2 separate regions of the Homo sapiens genome follow, and region 1 is linked to region 2. Evidence: fine-mapped expression QTL. A gene starts in region 2. The other region holds a variant in brackets. All regions are shown on one strand. Distances are between the middles of the regions.

Region 1 (8,335 bases), 28 kb before region 2:
CAGTGGGTCCCAAGTATAACATTAATACTATCTTCAGGAAGAAAAATGAAATGTAGTTTACACAAAACATAGAATGACCATGAAAATAGATGATATCAGTGACATGGTGAAGAAAACATATGTTTCTTCTCTCAGCAAGATAAAAGAAAGATAATTGGAAATTCCAGGAAAAAAAAAAACGACAAGAATTATATAGAAAAGTCAAGATACAAATATGAAGCCAGCTAAAATGTAGCACAATTTTCAGCAATTTCTGTAACTATGAAAGAGAATTTATTTAATTTAGACTCTAAAATATCCTTCTTCAAAGAGCCCAGAGGTCATGGTCTTGGACCTATAGAAAAGGAAATGTAATTTTTGCATATTATTTGCCTATGCAATGAATATTAATTAAATAGTCATAATAACATAAATTGGGGGGTTATGTTGATATTTAACTCCCAGAATCAAACTGTAAGCAACAGTTTATAAAAGATGGGTTACAATAAAGAAAGAATTTGGCATTAACTCTGAAAACATAAAAACAAAAGTCTAGGCCAGACCCGATGGCTCACGCCTGGAATGCCAACACTTTGGGAGGCCAGGGTGGGTGGATCATTTGAACTCAGGAGTTCAAGACCAGCCTGGGAAACATGGTGAAATCTCATCTCTACAAAAAATACAAAAATTAGCCTGGCATGATGGAACTTGCCTATAGTCCCAGCTATTTGGGAAGCTGAGGCAGGAGGATTGCTTGAGCCCAGAAGGTGGAGGTTGCAGTAAGCCAAGATCACGCCACTGCACTCCAGCCTGGGTAACAGAGCAAGACCCTGTTTCAGGAGAAAAAAATAATAATAATATTCTTGACAGAATATTATGGTAGGTGGAAGGGTAGAAGGTGGAAGAAAGGAGAAAAGGGCCAATAGTCTCATCAGCATATCTCCAGAATGTGACCTCTTCTCACCAACTCCACGAGTATCTCCTGGTCAGCACTACCAGCATCTCTGTCTTGACGACTGTAAAAGCCTCCCGACTACTCCCCTGCCTCCCCCTATGCCTTCCTACAGTTCTCAACATGGAAGCTATACATATCCACAAGTCAGACCGTGTCACTCTGCTCAAAACCTTGCAATGGCTTCTCATTGTACCCAACGTAAAAGCAAAAATTCTTTATATTGATCCACATAGCCCTATATCATCTCACCCTGTTATCTCTCTGACCTCATCCTCCACCACGCTGCCCTTTGCTCACTCCATTCTAGCCCTACTAGCCACCTGTAATCCTTGAATGTGCCAGGCACACTCCTTCCTTGCAGCCTTTGCTGTTGCCTCTGCCTGGAACTCTCTTCCCTAAAATGCTTACATGAATAACATCCTCCCTGCCTTTATGTCTGCTCAAACATCATCTCTCAATGAAGTTAAATCTGACCATCCGATTTAAAATCATTATTCCCACTTTCCAGATTCCTGAACTATCTTTTCCTGTCTTACTTTTTTTAATTTTGAATGTATCAATGTCTACTATATAATTTCTGTATCTGAACACCCCATCAATGTCTACTATATAATTTCTGTATCTGAACACCCCTACCCCCAACTACCATGTAAGTGCCAATGAGCCTGAGAGCTCTGTTTTGTTCACTGAGCACTTAGAACAGTGCCTGTCGCCATACTAAGTATCCAATAAATAATCATGATTATATAAATATAGCCTGGGAGTCAAGAGGTATTATATATGGCTGATGGGACAAAAACTAGAGGTTTAAGTGTTTTATTTAAAGGTATAAAAGCAACCAAGAATAAAACTATAATAATAGCTATCAAAAACTGGGAGAGGGTAGCTAAATCCTTGTTTTTATTATAGAGAATAAGTACAATACATAGAAATAAAGTCTTGAAAGATACACACCAAATTACTTTCAGTTGTAACTTTGCAGGAGGCAGTTTAAAGGAATAAAGGGATAAAAATCAGTGATTAAAAATTTTAATCTTGGTCAGGCACGGTGGCTCATACCTATAATCCCAGCACTTTGGGAGGCAGAAGTGGGAGGATCGCTTGAGCCCAGGAGTTCGAGACCAGCCTGGGCAACATAGTGAGACCCTGTCTCTACAAAAAATGAAAAAATTAGCCAGGCACGGGGGCACATGCCTGTAGTCCCAGCTACCCAAGGGGCCGAGGTGGAAGGATCCACTGAGCTTGGAAGGTCAAGGCTATAGTGAGCCATGGTCACACTACTGCACTCCAGCCTAGGCAACAGAGTAAAACCCGTCTCAAAAATATGTAATTTTTTTTATCAAAAAAGGGAGGCGGTTTTCCTCTGGAAAGTGGGACTGGGAAGTGTGGCAGACAGCTGTTGTTTTTCAGTATAAACTCCTCAGCACTACCTTATTTTTACTATGTATACAATTACTTTGATGAAAATTAAAAGACAATAAATTTTATTTCTTTTTTTTGCTAATCAGCTGACTTTAGAAAATACATTTTTAAGGAAGCAAAGGAATAAGCAGTTCCAGGTTCACTCTAGTACATAAACAAATATCCAATAGATTCCCCAAAGTACCATACTTCATGACTGAGATGATGTTGGCCTTGGAAATTTTCAAAGTGGATGTTACAAGCTGATCACTATGGCTGTAAAAATAAAAGGAGATATAACAACATTAAACATTTGGTTTTAGGTACTTTAACTTCCTGATATGTACCTGTATGGATTTCAAATTTTTCCTCTATTATCTAAGATAGTCACTGTTTGAAAGCCAAGGCCTCCTCTCCCATCCGTTATCTGCTAGGGGATTAGTATAGCATTTTAACATTTGATCTTATTTTCTCCCTTCTGGATCATGTGGATTGGCTTCGCCACCGTATGAGTTTGCCAAAAGCGAGAGTAACATGCCAAACCAAACATCTGTCACTAAACTGCAGGAGATTTATTATTTTTACCTAAAAGAATACTTGCTACATCAAGAATACTGTAGTCATTAAGCCAGATGAGGCCCTAGGCCAGGTGGATGGTGTGACCATGGACACCAAGGTCTCAGAGAACACCCTGCTCTTCCCACTCACAGAGCCCTGAAGGACCCAGCCTCTCCTAGTGGAGTGCTGTCAAGAAAGACAACTAAAAGGAAAGTTCTGATGAGGGGATATGCAAGTCTACAAAGAGTTACTCGAGTCACTTTTATAGTTTCTACAAAATTTAAAGACTGAGAATAAAAAAGGCCCTCAGCCACTTGTTCATTGGTCAGCCCTAGCATCTAACATAAATGCTCTTCCACAACCCCTAGCAAGGCAGGAGGGGGTAATAAAGACAGCTTTTGGCAAGACCTCAGGAGAAAGAGAAATTTTGATTCTCAACACTGTATCCCAGGAGGGTAGGGAAGAAAATAGAAAATTAATACCAAAGGACAGTGTTTCTATATCTCCACAGCATATCTTTAGGATGGGAATCAGGCTGTTACCTTAGTTTCAAAGATCAACTTCCAATAGCAAAGGTAAGGTGACAAGCCATTCAAGGTATTTAAAACATAAGCACTAAAATTTTATCCATGCATTTATGTGTGTGCTTTTGAAAAAAAAGGCCTGTCACTATATTGCAGTCCCCACTGGATAAATATATTTTTTACTAAGTTTATTAGACATATAACAATTTTAGAAGACATCTGTCAAAGACAGTAACTTTAGTTTTAGAACTGTTAATATTATGCCATTTATTTTCTAACAGTGTTTATTATGCAAGGACTGATTGCCTGTTGAGGTCATTCTTGGTTCTCAAAACGAAAACCATATTATTATATAATTACC[C/T]AGACTCCCCCTGCACCATTATCTAAAAGAGTGGGACAAAGGATCGGAAGGTGACCTAGCAAAACAAGTACTTTGTTTTAGAGCCTTTACACTTCAGAAAAATCACTCCCGTGATGCTCAGAGCTTTCAATGCTATTAAATCACAGTTTTCTGGCCAGGCACAGTGGCTCATGCCCGTAATTCCAACACTTTGGGAGGCCAAGGCAGGAGGATGGCTTGAGGCCAGAAGTTCAAGACCAGCCTGGGCAACATAGTGAGAACCCATCTCTACAATTAAAAAAATGCAAAAATTAGCCGGACATGTGCACACACCGGTAGTCGCAGCTACTCTAGAGGCTGAAGTGGCAGGATCACTTGAGCCAAAGAGCTCAAGGCTGCAGTGAACTATGATTGCATCACTGCACTCCAGCCCAGACAACAGTGAGACCCTGTCTCTAAAAAATAAAATAAAATGCATACTTTTTGAAGCATCAGTAACCAGGAATCTCTATTAAGCTTGTATACCATTCTTGTCCTGCTCAAACTCAGTCATCTCAATTCCAACCAGATGTCCAAACCAGAACCCTGGGAGCGATTCTTGTCCTCTCCCTCTGCCTCAGTCTCCATATCCAATCATCCCCCACAAAGCCCTGTTGAATATCATTCTAAAATACATCATGAGCTTTTTCACGCTCTCTGGTTAAAGGTAGTCCAAGTCAACACTGTCTTACATTGGGGCTGCTACAATCAGAATTTTTTAAATAAAAATAGTAGCAAACACCTTATAATCCTTACTATGGGTCAGGTACCCCTCTAAGTGCTTTAAATGCATTAGCTGATTTATTCTTCTCAATAACCCTATAAAGCATTCTAGCACCACTTGAAGATGAAGAAACTGATGCACAGAGAAGTTAACTGACTTTCCCAATATCACACAGCTAGGAAGTGGAGGAGCCAGCTGTCCCCTCCTCACTGACCCTTTGCACTCACACCTGCCATCCTCCGGTCTGATTTCCACACAGCAACCAGTGTGATTGTTTAAACAAGTAACTTTTATACAGAACCAGAAACCTTGAAGTGAGAACAGAAAACAACTTTATTCTTTTCTTCCCAACAGCCTGATCAAACCGGCTCTGCAGGACAGGTTCTTTCCTGGCGCCTGGGGCAAGTCCCTTGACTTTTTTTTGGTGCTGTCAGTTAATACGAATTCTCTCTTTCAGTCGCAAAATGGTCTCATTTCAATAATAAAAATGCCCAGTTCAGCGTGTTGGTTGAAACACTGAATTTCATTACAGTTAATGCTTCCTCCCCACCACCCACCCAAACCCCAAACCTGCTAGGGCTGGCGGCCTTTGTGGTGGGGCTGGCTCCTCTCTCCTGGCCTCCTCCTCTTCATTGTCTCAGCCGCTTCAGCCAGCCAAGGTTGGAGGGGCCAGGAAAGAGAGATAAGAAACAGAAAAGATCTTGTGTGACAGACACAGGCGTAATCTACCATTGACAGACTCTGGCCGTGGCAGGTGTTTAAAGCTGACTCTTACTCTCAGGACTTTTTTTTTTTTTTTTTTTTTTTTTGAAACGGAGTCTCGCTTTGTCGCCCAGGCTGGAGTGCGGTGGCGCATCAGCTCACCGCAAGCTCCGCCTCCTGGGTTCACGCCATTCTCCTGCCTCAGCCTCCCGAGTAGCTGGGACTACAGGCGCCCGTCACCACGCCCGGCTAATTTTTTTGTATTTTTTAGTAGAGACGGGGTTTCACCGTGTTAGCCAGGATGGTCTCGATCTCCTCACCCTAGATAGTCCTCTGTAAGTTCCGCTGATTGGAGCTCATTGAAATAGGCAAAGCCTCGACCTTAGCTGGATGCTTACATACCCACTCCAGCCCCACGTTCAGCTTCTGAATCTGAAGACACGTCTCCAGCCTCTGTCTGCTAAGGTTGTCTGGTGTGGACAGAAGTTCTCTTAAGCATGATCCCCTTTTAAATGACCGCACGTATATATTCCTCCCAAGGATTTCATACCTTGGAGCTGCCAATGCAAACTGTCAATACTAGTTAACTTTCCAAATGCAGTTCCTTACTTTGATGACAGTAAGCTATTTACCAGGTATTTCTGTGACCCATGGACTCCAGAGGCTACAGGTCAAACCTTCCATGTGGTCTCCTTGGAGCACCCCTCACTAGCACACCTGAGGCAAGGTAAAAATACCTGTCCTACCAATCTCTCATGGGGTTGTAGGGAAGACATGATGCATTGGAGATTCTTTCAATGGGAATTTCCAAAACTCAACTATCTCCTTGGCCTTTTCAATTTTAGTTCCTATATAGCCTTAAGATAGGCAGAGGGGTGAAGATCCACAGAAGTGGTTTCAGCACCTCTTTCATAATTCTGCCATAGATGATCTCACTCACTGCACTTTGAAATGTGGGGGTAATTAGGCCCTCAGCTGCAGTGAATCAGGAAGAGTCCCATTTTAACACTCTGTTAGAAATACCACATCATGCCTTTCCATCGCTATTAGCATTAAATACTAAAAAACACTAATCATACTATGTCCTTCCACTGCTATTGCGATTAAACGCTAACTCTTTACCACATTCTATGGAGCACTGCATGATATGGGCCTTGCCTACCTGTCTAGCCTTGTTTCATAACTCTCTTTTCAGGTTCAGCTGCATTGGTCTTCTTGCAGGTCCTTGGATTCTCTAAGCTCTTTCCTACCTCAGGACCTTCATACATGCCTAGGAGATTCTTCCTCCTACCACTCTTGTCCTCATTTGTTAGGTCTCAGCTTAAATATTATCTCATAGCAAAGGATTTTCCTGAAGTATTATAGCTCTCTGCCCCCAGCCAACTATTCTCATTCATATATATTATTTAACTTTACAGCATTTACCACAAATTGTAAATGTGTGATTGTGTATTTTCTTTTTTTTTTTCTTTTTTTTTTTTTAATTGATCATTCTTGGGTGTTTCTCGCAGAGGGGGATTTGGCAGGGTCACAGGACAATAGTGGAGGGAAGGTCAGCAGATAAACATGTGAACAGAGGTCTCTGGTTTTCCTAGGCAGAGGACCCTGCGGCCTTCCGCAGTGTTTGTGTCCCTGGGTACTTGAGATTAGGGAGTGGTGATGACTTTTAACGAGCATGCTGCCTTCAAGCATCTGTTTAACAAAGCACATCTTGCACCGCCCTTAATCCATTTAACCCTGAGTGGACACAGCACATGTTTCAGAGAGCACAGGGTTGGGGGCAAGGTCACAGATCAACAGGATCCCAAGGAAGAAGAATTTTTCTTAGTACAGCACAAAAGGAAAAGTCTCCCATGTCTACCTCTTTCTACACAGACACGACAACCATCCAATTTCTCAATCTTTTCCCCACTTTTCCCCCCTTTCTATTCTACAAAACCGCCATTGTCATCCTGGCCCGTTCTCAATGAGCTGTTGGGTACACCTCCCAGCCGGGGTGGCAGCCGGGCAGAGGGGCTCCTCACTTCCCAGTAGGGGCGGCCGGGCAGAAGCACCCCTCACCTCCCGGACGGGGCGGCTGGCCGGGCGGGTGGCTGACCCCCCCACCTCTCTCCCTGACGGGGCGGCTGGCCGGGCGGGGGCTGACCCCCACCTCCCTCCCGGACAGGGTGGCTGCCAGGCGGAGACGCTCCTCACTTCCCAGACGGGGTGGCTGCCGGGCGGAGGGGCTCCTCACTTCTCAGACGGGGCGGCCTGGCAGAGACGCTCCTCACATCCCAGACGGGGCAGCAGGGCAGAGGCGCTCCCCACATCTCAGACGATGGGCGGCCAGGCAGAGACGCTCCTCACTTCCTAGATGGGATGGTGGCCAGGCAGAGACGCTCCTCACTTCCCAGATAGGGTGGCGGCCGGGCAGAGGCTGCAATCTCGGCACTTTGGGAGGCCAAGGCAGGCGGCTGGGAGGTGGAGGTTGTAGTGAGCCAAGATCACGCCACTGCACTCCAGCCTGGGCACCATTGAGCACTGAGTGAACGACACTCTGTCTGCAATCCTGGCACCTCGGGAAGCCGAGGCTGGCGGATCACTTGTGGTTAGGAGCTGGAGACCAGCCCGGCCAACACAGCGAAACCCCGTCTCCACCAAAAAAATACGAAAACCAGTCAGGCGTGGTGGCGCGCGCCTGCAGTCGCAGGCACTCGGCAGGCTGAGGCAGGAGAACCAGGCAGGGGGGTTGCAGTGAGCGGAGATGGCAGCAGTACAGTCCAGCTTCAGCTCTGCATCAGAGGGAGACCGTGGAAAGAGAGGGAGAGGAGGGAGAGGAGGGAGAGGAGGGAGAGGAGGGAGAGGAGGGAGACGGGAGAGGGAGAGGGAGAGGGAGAGGGAGAGGGAGAGGAGGGAGAGGAGGGAGAGGAGGGAGAGAGCGTGATTGTGTATTTTCAAGTTTATGGCCATATGGCCAGAAACTGGTTAATGATTTACTAAATTATTTCTGTTTTCCTACTGGACATACAGTTGAACTACATATCCCAGCCTCCCTTGCAGTTAGGTACAGCCATATGACTGTTGTAGTCAATGGAATGTAGGTAGAAAAAGAACACACTTCCAGGCCTGGC
Region 2 (8,335 bases):
GTGAAGTGCCTGAATGAAATCCCTTTTTTTTTTTTTTTTTGAAACATCCAGAGTGGTTTCAGCTTCCTATGGTGAACCCTGACTGTATCCTTTGTGTGCTAGTGGCTTTCCATCCCCTTACCTCCAACCATTCTCTACCTTTCAGTGCCCTACTTTGTGCCCCAGGAGTCTGTCCTGTATGAACTGCATGTTCCGAGCCCCTCTACCCTCTGGCCTTGGTTGGTTTTGGATCATGGGAAGCACCACCAAGAGATCAGAAAGTAGGAGGTGAGAGAAATCAGGATATTTATCCCTTCTTCCTTTCAACTTCTCACCAGACTGTGGGTCCCTTACCCTGTCAACTCTGTGAAGAGTCCTTTCATTAAATTTTCCCCATTTAAACACATTGAATATGATATCTGTTTCCTGCCTTGACTATGACTCCTATCAGGGGTTTAATAATCAAACCATGAGTCTAAAAAACAGTAACAGACTGTCTCCTATCTTCCATTTTATAAAGTAGAAGAGCTTTACAAAATGTAAATCTGAATATATCATGCTTCTTCTTTAAAACTTCAATGGCTCTTTGTTAACCCCTGTCACTGTACCCAACTCTAAGTTGCAGCCAGACAGAACTAATTTCAGTTCCCTCTGCAACATGGTCTCTCTTCCTTTGAGCCTCTGCACAGACACTACCTCCTTCCTGGAAACTGCTCCCCACCCATGCTCATTATTCAGGCCTCAGCTTAAAGGCCTGAATTCAGGCTTCACTTACCCTAGAAGGCATTCCATAAACCTACTACTTATCCCTGTTAGCTTTTATAGTCTCCCACAGCAGTCTCCACTCACCATCATACACAGACAGCACTCAGTGTTACATTGTACTGCAACTGCCTGCTTACTTCTCTGTGTCCTCCAGTAGACCGTGAGATCTAAGACAGGGACGGCATTTCAAATCCATAGGACCTATTAAGGTGCTTGGCACCTAATAGACACTCAATAAATATTGGATAGTTCCTGAATGTTATTGAAAAAGATTGAACTGTCCTCCTCTGGTCACCATTCTCTCTCTCTTTTCATTCGCTGACAAAAAAATCAGAAAAACATCAATAAAAATATAATTTTTATTTACCCACATTACTTTGTCACTATCTTACTTTTCACTGTCATCTTTTCACTTACTTTGTCACTTTTCATCTTACTTTGTCACTATCTTTTATGATGACTTCTCTTGCCAAGATTACCAATGACCTCCTAGACCTTCAATTCAGTAGCTTCTTTTCAGTCCAAATCCTCTGGGACTGCTCTGCAGCACTCTCTTGAAATGGTCCTCTGTCCTACATGGATCACAGATTGCTCTCTCTCTTTCTTTCTCTCTCTCTTCTCTCTCTCACACACACATACTCACATACCACACACACACACTTTAGTTGATCTGTTTGCATATCTCTGTTTTTCTCCATTCCTTTATAAGCCCCTATGTCTTATTCATTTGCATCTCTAGTACCCAGCATAGTGCCTGGCACACAATAGAACTTTGTAACTACGAATGTTACATGATTAAAACCGTCTGGGCTTCCAGGCCATCTCTTTCTTCATCTCCTTTTTCTCTTGACTGCTTGTTCTTAGGCACCTTCACGATCTCCTCTTTGCCTACCCTTTAAATATTCTTCAGAGTAACTCATCCTTATCCACCTTTTGGGCTTCAGCCATCAGCGATTACCTCAATTCCCAAATGTATATTTTCAATTGCCAATGCATTTTTATGAGCTAAGGCTGCCTCTCTCTCCCTAGATGTACTGCAAGCAGATCCCATAAAGACTCATTATCTCTTCCATTCCCAACCTGCCCTCCTCTTGCTTTCAATGTTCAGTCAATGAAATTAACATTCATCCAGTGCTCTAAATGACAAATCTCAAAGTCCCCAAATGCATCTCACTGTCTTTGCCCCCTGTCCTGCAGGGTAAGAAGCTTTATCCATTACCAAATCCCCACCCCCGAACCTGCCTCTGAATCTTTTTTTTTTTTTAATTTATTTCTCCTAGAACAACTTACCCCACTTTGTCCCAAATCATTTTCATCCTTTGAAATTCAGAAAACTGATTAACTTCAATTAATTGCTTCTCTGAGTTCTACATAGCTTGGTGCTAGGTTGTGTTTTTTTAATGACCTGTCTAAACATGTCTTCCTCACTAGATTGTAAAATTCTTGAGGGCAGTTATTGGCTTTTGGTTATGGGGTCTAGCCGATGATTGACATTTTAAGCAATTTTTTTATATGAATGAATGAGTAAACGAGTAAACTGAGAAAGAAAATATTTTCAATTAAACCCTTTCAGAATTACTGTGGCAGAATCTGAGTGAAAATGACAATAACTCAGTTTAAAAACATGAACATCACGTAACCAACTTTGTAACATTCATTGTAACAATACATGCATGATTACAGAAGGCAGGTAATTGTTATTCCCCTAGGGAGATTTTTTTTTAAGCCTGCTCTGAAGATTTTGTTTTGTTTTTAAGACAGGGGCTTGTTCTGTTGCCCAGGCTAGAGTGCAGTGGCGCGATCTCCGATCATTGCAAGCTCCGCTTCCCCGGCTCAGGCTAACCTCCCTCCTCAGCCTCCCGAGTAGCTGGGATTACAGCGTAGCCATGCCAGACTGCCTGCAGAATTTGATTTTAAGCATTTCAGTTCTCAGTATAGACAGACAAATTTTTAAAGGGAGGGTATTATTTTAACTGCTTCTTTGCTCTTTTATCTTTTGTCCTGGGTGACAGGAACTAGATAAGCTATACCCCAGAGAAAGCGCCTGCAGCAGTACGGTGCCTGGGCCCTTGATAGTCCCTCAGCACATCATTTTCCTTTTTCCTACCTTATCTTCCTTTTATATTTGAAGGCTCGTGAATTTAGAGTACCTAACGGAAATTTTAGTTTTAGGATTTCAATTTGACCAAAACAACGCTGAGATTTTAATTGCCTCTATTAACCCATGGCTCTCAAACCCAAAGGAAAGAAACCACTGGAGGGGGTGGGGGAGAAAGGAGGCGGTGCAAAAACTGAAAAGAAAGGCGGAGAGGAAGCGGTAGAAGGAAGCTTTCTCTGTCGGGTTTGTCTTTTTTTAACCCCAGAAAGGCGTGACGTGCTAACTGCCGTCGCGGGTTAGAGTCCGCGGCCAAGCCCGCGCCCGCCCACAAAGTCCCCGCCCTCCCTCCGGCTTCCGCCCCGCCGTGCGCTGCAGGCCGCGGCCGCTGGGGGCGCCCCCGACCCCCGAGGCGCTGAGGCGGCGGTTCCTCGAGCCTCGCCTCTCCCGACTCCCAGACGGGCGGCAGCGGCGGCGGAGGCGGCGGCGGCGGCGGCGGCGAGCTGAGCACCAAAAGGGCGCTCACCTCCCCGGGCGAGCTGCAGCACGACCGCTCCCCGCGGGCGGTCGGGGTCCGCGCCGCAGCTGCCGCCGCGTTCCGGCCCAGGCTGCCGCGAGAGGCGGCGGCAGCGGCCCCGGCCGCGGCCGGCCTGCGGCGCCCCCCGGCCGCGCCCCCGCGCACAGCTCGCGGCCCCGGCCATGGGGCTGGGCTGATCCGGGGCTCGGCCAAGCTGAGGCGGCGGCGCCCGGCCGTGCGCCCAGCTTGCAGGCGCCTGGCTCTCACGATGATGAAGAAGAAGAAGTTTAAGTTTAAGGTGGACTTCGAGCTCGAGGAGCTCTCCTCAGTGCCCTTCGTCAATGGGGTCCTCTTCTGCAAGATGCGGCTGCTGGACGGCGGCAGCTTCACCGCCGAGTCCTCCAGGTAACTCGCCTCCCGCGCCGCCTCGCCCCTTTCTGCTTGGCCAGGGCTTGTTGGATGGGCAGCATCTCTCCTTGGCCCATTTGCTCGCCTTTCCCTAGGGACCGCTCTAAAATCAGTCGAATTTATTGATCTGCAAAGTGCTTTGCAAATGGGTTCTTCTCAGCTGGCCTTGGTTCCTGCGCTCCTGACTCCAGATGGTGCCTGGTATCTGCTCTTCCCTCCCAAATCCTCTAGGAATGGGAGCAATGGCCAGAGAGGGAGGATGCTTCTGTTTTCTCTTAAGACATTTCCATATTTGTGAAATGCAAAGTAGAACTTGAGCTGTTAAAAACTAAAATAACCCAAACTGCAGGAGTTCCAAGAGCCCAGCTCTGAACAGAAACCTGTGCTTAGCACAATTCCTTCTCCCTTGTAGATTACAAGGGGACTTGGCCACCCACTCTGAGGCTGGGGTAGGCCTGGCCAGGCTTGACTTGAGTCAAGTGCTCCTGGCAGACGAGACAACGGTCTGTGCCTCATCAGAGAGCGGCGTCTCCAGTTAGGCGCTAATGCTGGATGAATTAGTCTTGAAGTGGCCACTAGTAGGTCTCCTTGTGGGAGGGCTTAGAGCCAGATGGGGAGCCCAGGCCCTGCCCTCATTTTAAAATGAGCCCCTGGGCACTCCCAGAGAGAGGCATTAGCAGGTTACAGAATGAAGCTATTAAATAATAGGTGTGGCATTAATAATAGGTGTGGCAGTGTTTCTTGAGTAATTTCAGAGCTACTCACAGGTTGACAGATGTACCCTAAGGTGCTTTCTTTAAAATATATACATAGAGAGAGAAAACAATTTTTTAAATGAACTTTTGAGTTCCTGAGATCAAGAAGGGTTAAAAGTTAATGTTATTTTGCCCATATATACTGGTCTTAGGCTTTATTTCTGCCCTAAAAATATTCTACTTAAAAAAAATTCCGTCATCCCATTTATAGTATAAAGGAAATAATGTCACTGGATTGTGGAATTGGGGCTAGAAACTTGTCTTTGGGGCAATATTGAAGCCTATGGAAGCCAGAAAATGTCTAGTTGGCTAAACCAAAGGATATATGAAATTAATAGTTTGCCGAAGACAGTTTTTAAAATTAAACTGTGGTGACACATCAGTGGATATTCAGCTAAGTATTTTAAACACCTGTAAGAGAAGAATGTAACCTATTTTGGTGCAAAAAAAATATTGGACCATCTCTTACTTGTTGAAAAGCCTAAGCCGATTCGTGAAGGTCCTGTTGGTGCAGGTGACAGTCTTGCCCTGAGGCCTAGACTGTTTTGCTGCAGGGTGCCACCCCCGACGCCAGGCAGTTAGACTGGCGCTCCTGGGCCAGTGGTGACACCTGGTGGTCAGGGCACTTGTCTACGGGGCTTCCTTCCTACCTCAGTTATGTTTATTTGGCTTACTTCCCACAAGTCACTTATTCTTTCGTTGTAGGCAGTCATTTATTCAGCAAATATGTGTTGGCTTCTAAATATATTATCTTATTTAATTCTCATAGCAAGTCTATAAGGTAGGGGTTCCATTTCGTAGATAAATAAACTGAGGCTCAGAAAGCATAACTAACTTTCCTAAGGTCCCCTCAGCTGGTAAGTGCGATGCCAAGATTCTGATCAGGTCTGTGTAACTTCAAACAGGGTGGTGCCAGATAAAGGAATAAATCGTGTGCCATATATGAAAGTTTCTGAATAGGGAGCTTCCTAATGACTTTAATGAGCAAGGGGTATACTCCGCAAGACTTAGAAATGAAAAAGTTGAGTATCTTGGGTTAAACTCACCCCTTTTTCTTCCAATTAAAATTTGACTTTGATCAATTTGATTTTAAGTAAGATTAGGAATAGTGCTCTGTGTAGCCAAACCAAAAAGCCATATAGTATGGGGGAAATGACTCACAATAAGGAGCCTGTGCCTTTGACATTAGGTAGAGATAGTTGGTGTAAAGCTAAGAGCAAGGATTTGGAATGCGGTGAGTCTAAGCCTAAACCCCAGTTCCACTGTGGTAAACCTGGATGGGTTACTTAGAGTCCCAAAACTTCTGTATGTAAAATAGAAACCATCACTGACATGTGGTGGTGTGAGGATTTAGTGAGATGATGTGCCCAAAACACCTAAACAGTGCCTTAGCACCCAGTTGGCATTTAAAGAGGAGACCAGGAACTTGTCCAAGAAGGTCCATTTGCTTGAGATGTTATATTTGATTCCTTTATCCTAACAACTACAAAATTGTTGGTTTGAGAAAGAGACCTCATTTTACAAGAAAAAAAAAAAAGAAAATCTGAAATATCTAAAGGAAGTGAATTATTTCAAAATCACAGAACTTTTAATTAGTGGGTGCCAGTCAAGGCAGTGCATCTCTAATTGAACGCTAGATTTTAACTTCTAAAAAATTGCTGTATGTGCCCCTTAAAAGTCAGGTGTAGTTAACACTGTAACATTTCTCCTGTAAAAATATGAAATGAATTACATAGAAAAGAGGTAATATAGCAGGCCCAAGACTGCTATTCTTAGAAAGGCCTATGTACAAGGCTGGCCCTTGGCTGGCATCTGGGAGCTTGAATGGTAAATGGTTCCATACATGATACAAAACTTTACGTAAATGATAAGAGTGGCTCACTGTGCCTAGACTGTACGGAGTGGTTTATGCTAAATTCCATCTGGAATTTTGGTTCTTGCTAGGCAGCCTACGTGACCAGCCCTAATACAAATTTTGGGCATTGAGTCTCTAATGAGTTTCCCTGGTAGACAGCACATCACAATTTAATTCTAGAGAAGTTAAGTGTGTGCTGATTCGACTTTGTATCTTTTCATTGTAATAAACCTTAGCCATGAGTAGGACTGTATGCTGAGTCCTGTGAGTCCTAATGAATCACCAAACTTAGGATTGGTCTTGGAGACTCCCTGATGGATGAACCTTTATAAAATAATACTCATCTTGCTACAGAAAAGCCTTAGAGGCACACAGAAAATTGCATATATAGATATAAATAGAGAGACCCAAATATATATAGGTCATATGTATTTGATATATATATTAATATATTTGGCTTTGTACAACAACTAAACATGCAGATCATTTATTCTTGGCCAAGTATTAGTTGAGCATTTACCAGGTTTCTATTAATAGCTCTCCATCTGGGATTGTGAGAAGTACAACAAATATAAGGATCCACAAGGGAATTACTTCTAATGAAATTAGATCATAGATGTATAATTGCTTGACAGTAGAAGACAGTGTGACTTAGTGCCCAATCAATGGATCAGACAATATATTGAGTGTTGTTGAAATTCTAAAGCAAAAGAGTTAATTTACAACTGTAATGGTTACTGACAACCACATTGGCATTTCTGTGGAGCACTCTGGGAGGATGAGTTTGCATTGACAAAGTGAGGATGGGAGGACAGCTTGAGCAAGTCATCAATAGGAGTTGATAATAGATCAGCCTGATTGCAGAGCGTTCATGTTGAATGGAAGCAGAAGATAAGATTAGAGAAAGACTTTGAATACTGTTGTAAAGAGTTTCTTTCTACTCTCTTTCTATAAATGAGAGTTGCTTTCTACTGCTCATAGGGTAAAATTAAACCTAAGATTCTTGAACTGAGTTGTTGTGTGGTTAAAGTGGCGTATCACCTGGCTGACAGGCTGATGCTATCTGTATTCAAGGTTGGGTGGGGGGGAAATTAGAGATGGGGAGACAAATTAGGAGGCTATTAAAATAACCCAGGCAGGAGCTAATGAGAACCTGAACTCCGAGGTGTCTCATGTAAGTGACTGATAAATGATAATCTTATGACAGATGCCTTGACGCCACCACAGAAGTAAAGAAGTCAGGAAAATTATTTGTTTTGTTTAAGGGGAATATTGCATATGGTGGTGGAAGATATAGTGGGTTAAGTTGTATGCTTAGCATGCTACATTTGAGGTGACAGCCTGATGAGTAGTGGGAGGCATTTATGCGGTATGTGGATTTCTTAGATGTTGTCTATTGGAGCCATATAGGCCTGCTTACTAAACTTATTTAGAATTTCCTTACATTGTTTTTACCCTTTTAAAGATTATTAGTGAAAAAAGGCCAGGCATAGTGGCTCATGCCTGTAAATCCCAGCACTTTGGGAGGCCGAGACACGCGGATTGGTTGAGCTCAGGAGTTTGAGACCAGCCTGGGCAACATGGCAAAACCCCATTTCTACAAAAAACATACCAAAAAATTAGCTAGATGTGGTGGTGGGCACCTGTAATGCCAGCTACTCAGGAGGCTGAGGTAGGAGGATCGCTTGAACCCGGGAGGCAGAGGTTGCAGTGAGCTGAGATCACCACCACTGCACTCCAGCCTGGGCAACAGAGTAAGACTCTGTCTCAAAAATAAATAAATAAAAATAAAGATTATTAGTGAAAATTAATTTTAGAAGCCAGTTTTTCTTGGTATTGTTTTCAATGAAGAGATTGGAAAAATATAAAGACTAAAAGGTAATTATTTGTAATAAATATTATTAAAATGGTCAGGGTAAATTGTCAGATTTTTACATGCCATAGTTAATAAAATATTTGGA

Direction of the effects. Alleles are on the strand shown, and positions count from the first base shown. SD is a standard deviation of normalised expression in the study named.
As copies of C replace T in region 1, the expression in tibial nerve of the gene that starts at base 3,296 in region 2 goes down (small effect, 0.14 SD a copy in GTEx).

The links. PIP is the estimated chance that this variant, and not a neighbour inherited with it, causes the effect.
Region 1: its variant is the best candidate, but not a certain one, in a credible set for the expression of EEIG2 in tibial nerve (GTEx, PIP 0.85).

Annotation. Positions count from the first base shown.
Region 1 is chr1:108,528,791-108,537,125 of GRCh38, forward strand. No RefSeq gene overlaps it. Among named protein-coding and RNA genes, the nearest start is that of EEIG2, 27 kb to the right of the region's middle. RefSeq lists a cis regulatory region at 4,835-5,410 and an enhancer at 8,077-8,335. The variant C/T (reference allele first, on the strand shown) is at 3,779.
Region 2 is chr1:108,556,805-108,565,139 of GRCh38, forward strand. EEIG2 (EEIG family member 2) reads left to right here and starts at 3,296. Exons shown (of 11, transcript NM_001010883.3): 1 at 3,296-3,761. The coding sequence starts at 3,625. RefSeq lists a silencer at 2,957-3,496 and enhancers at 3,887-3,986, 4,450-4,499.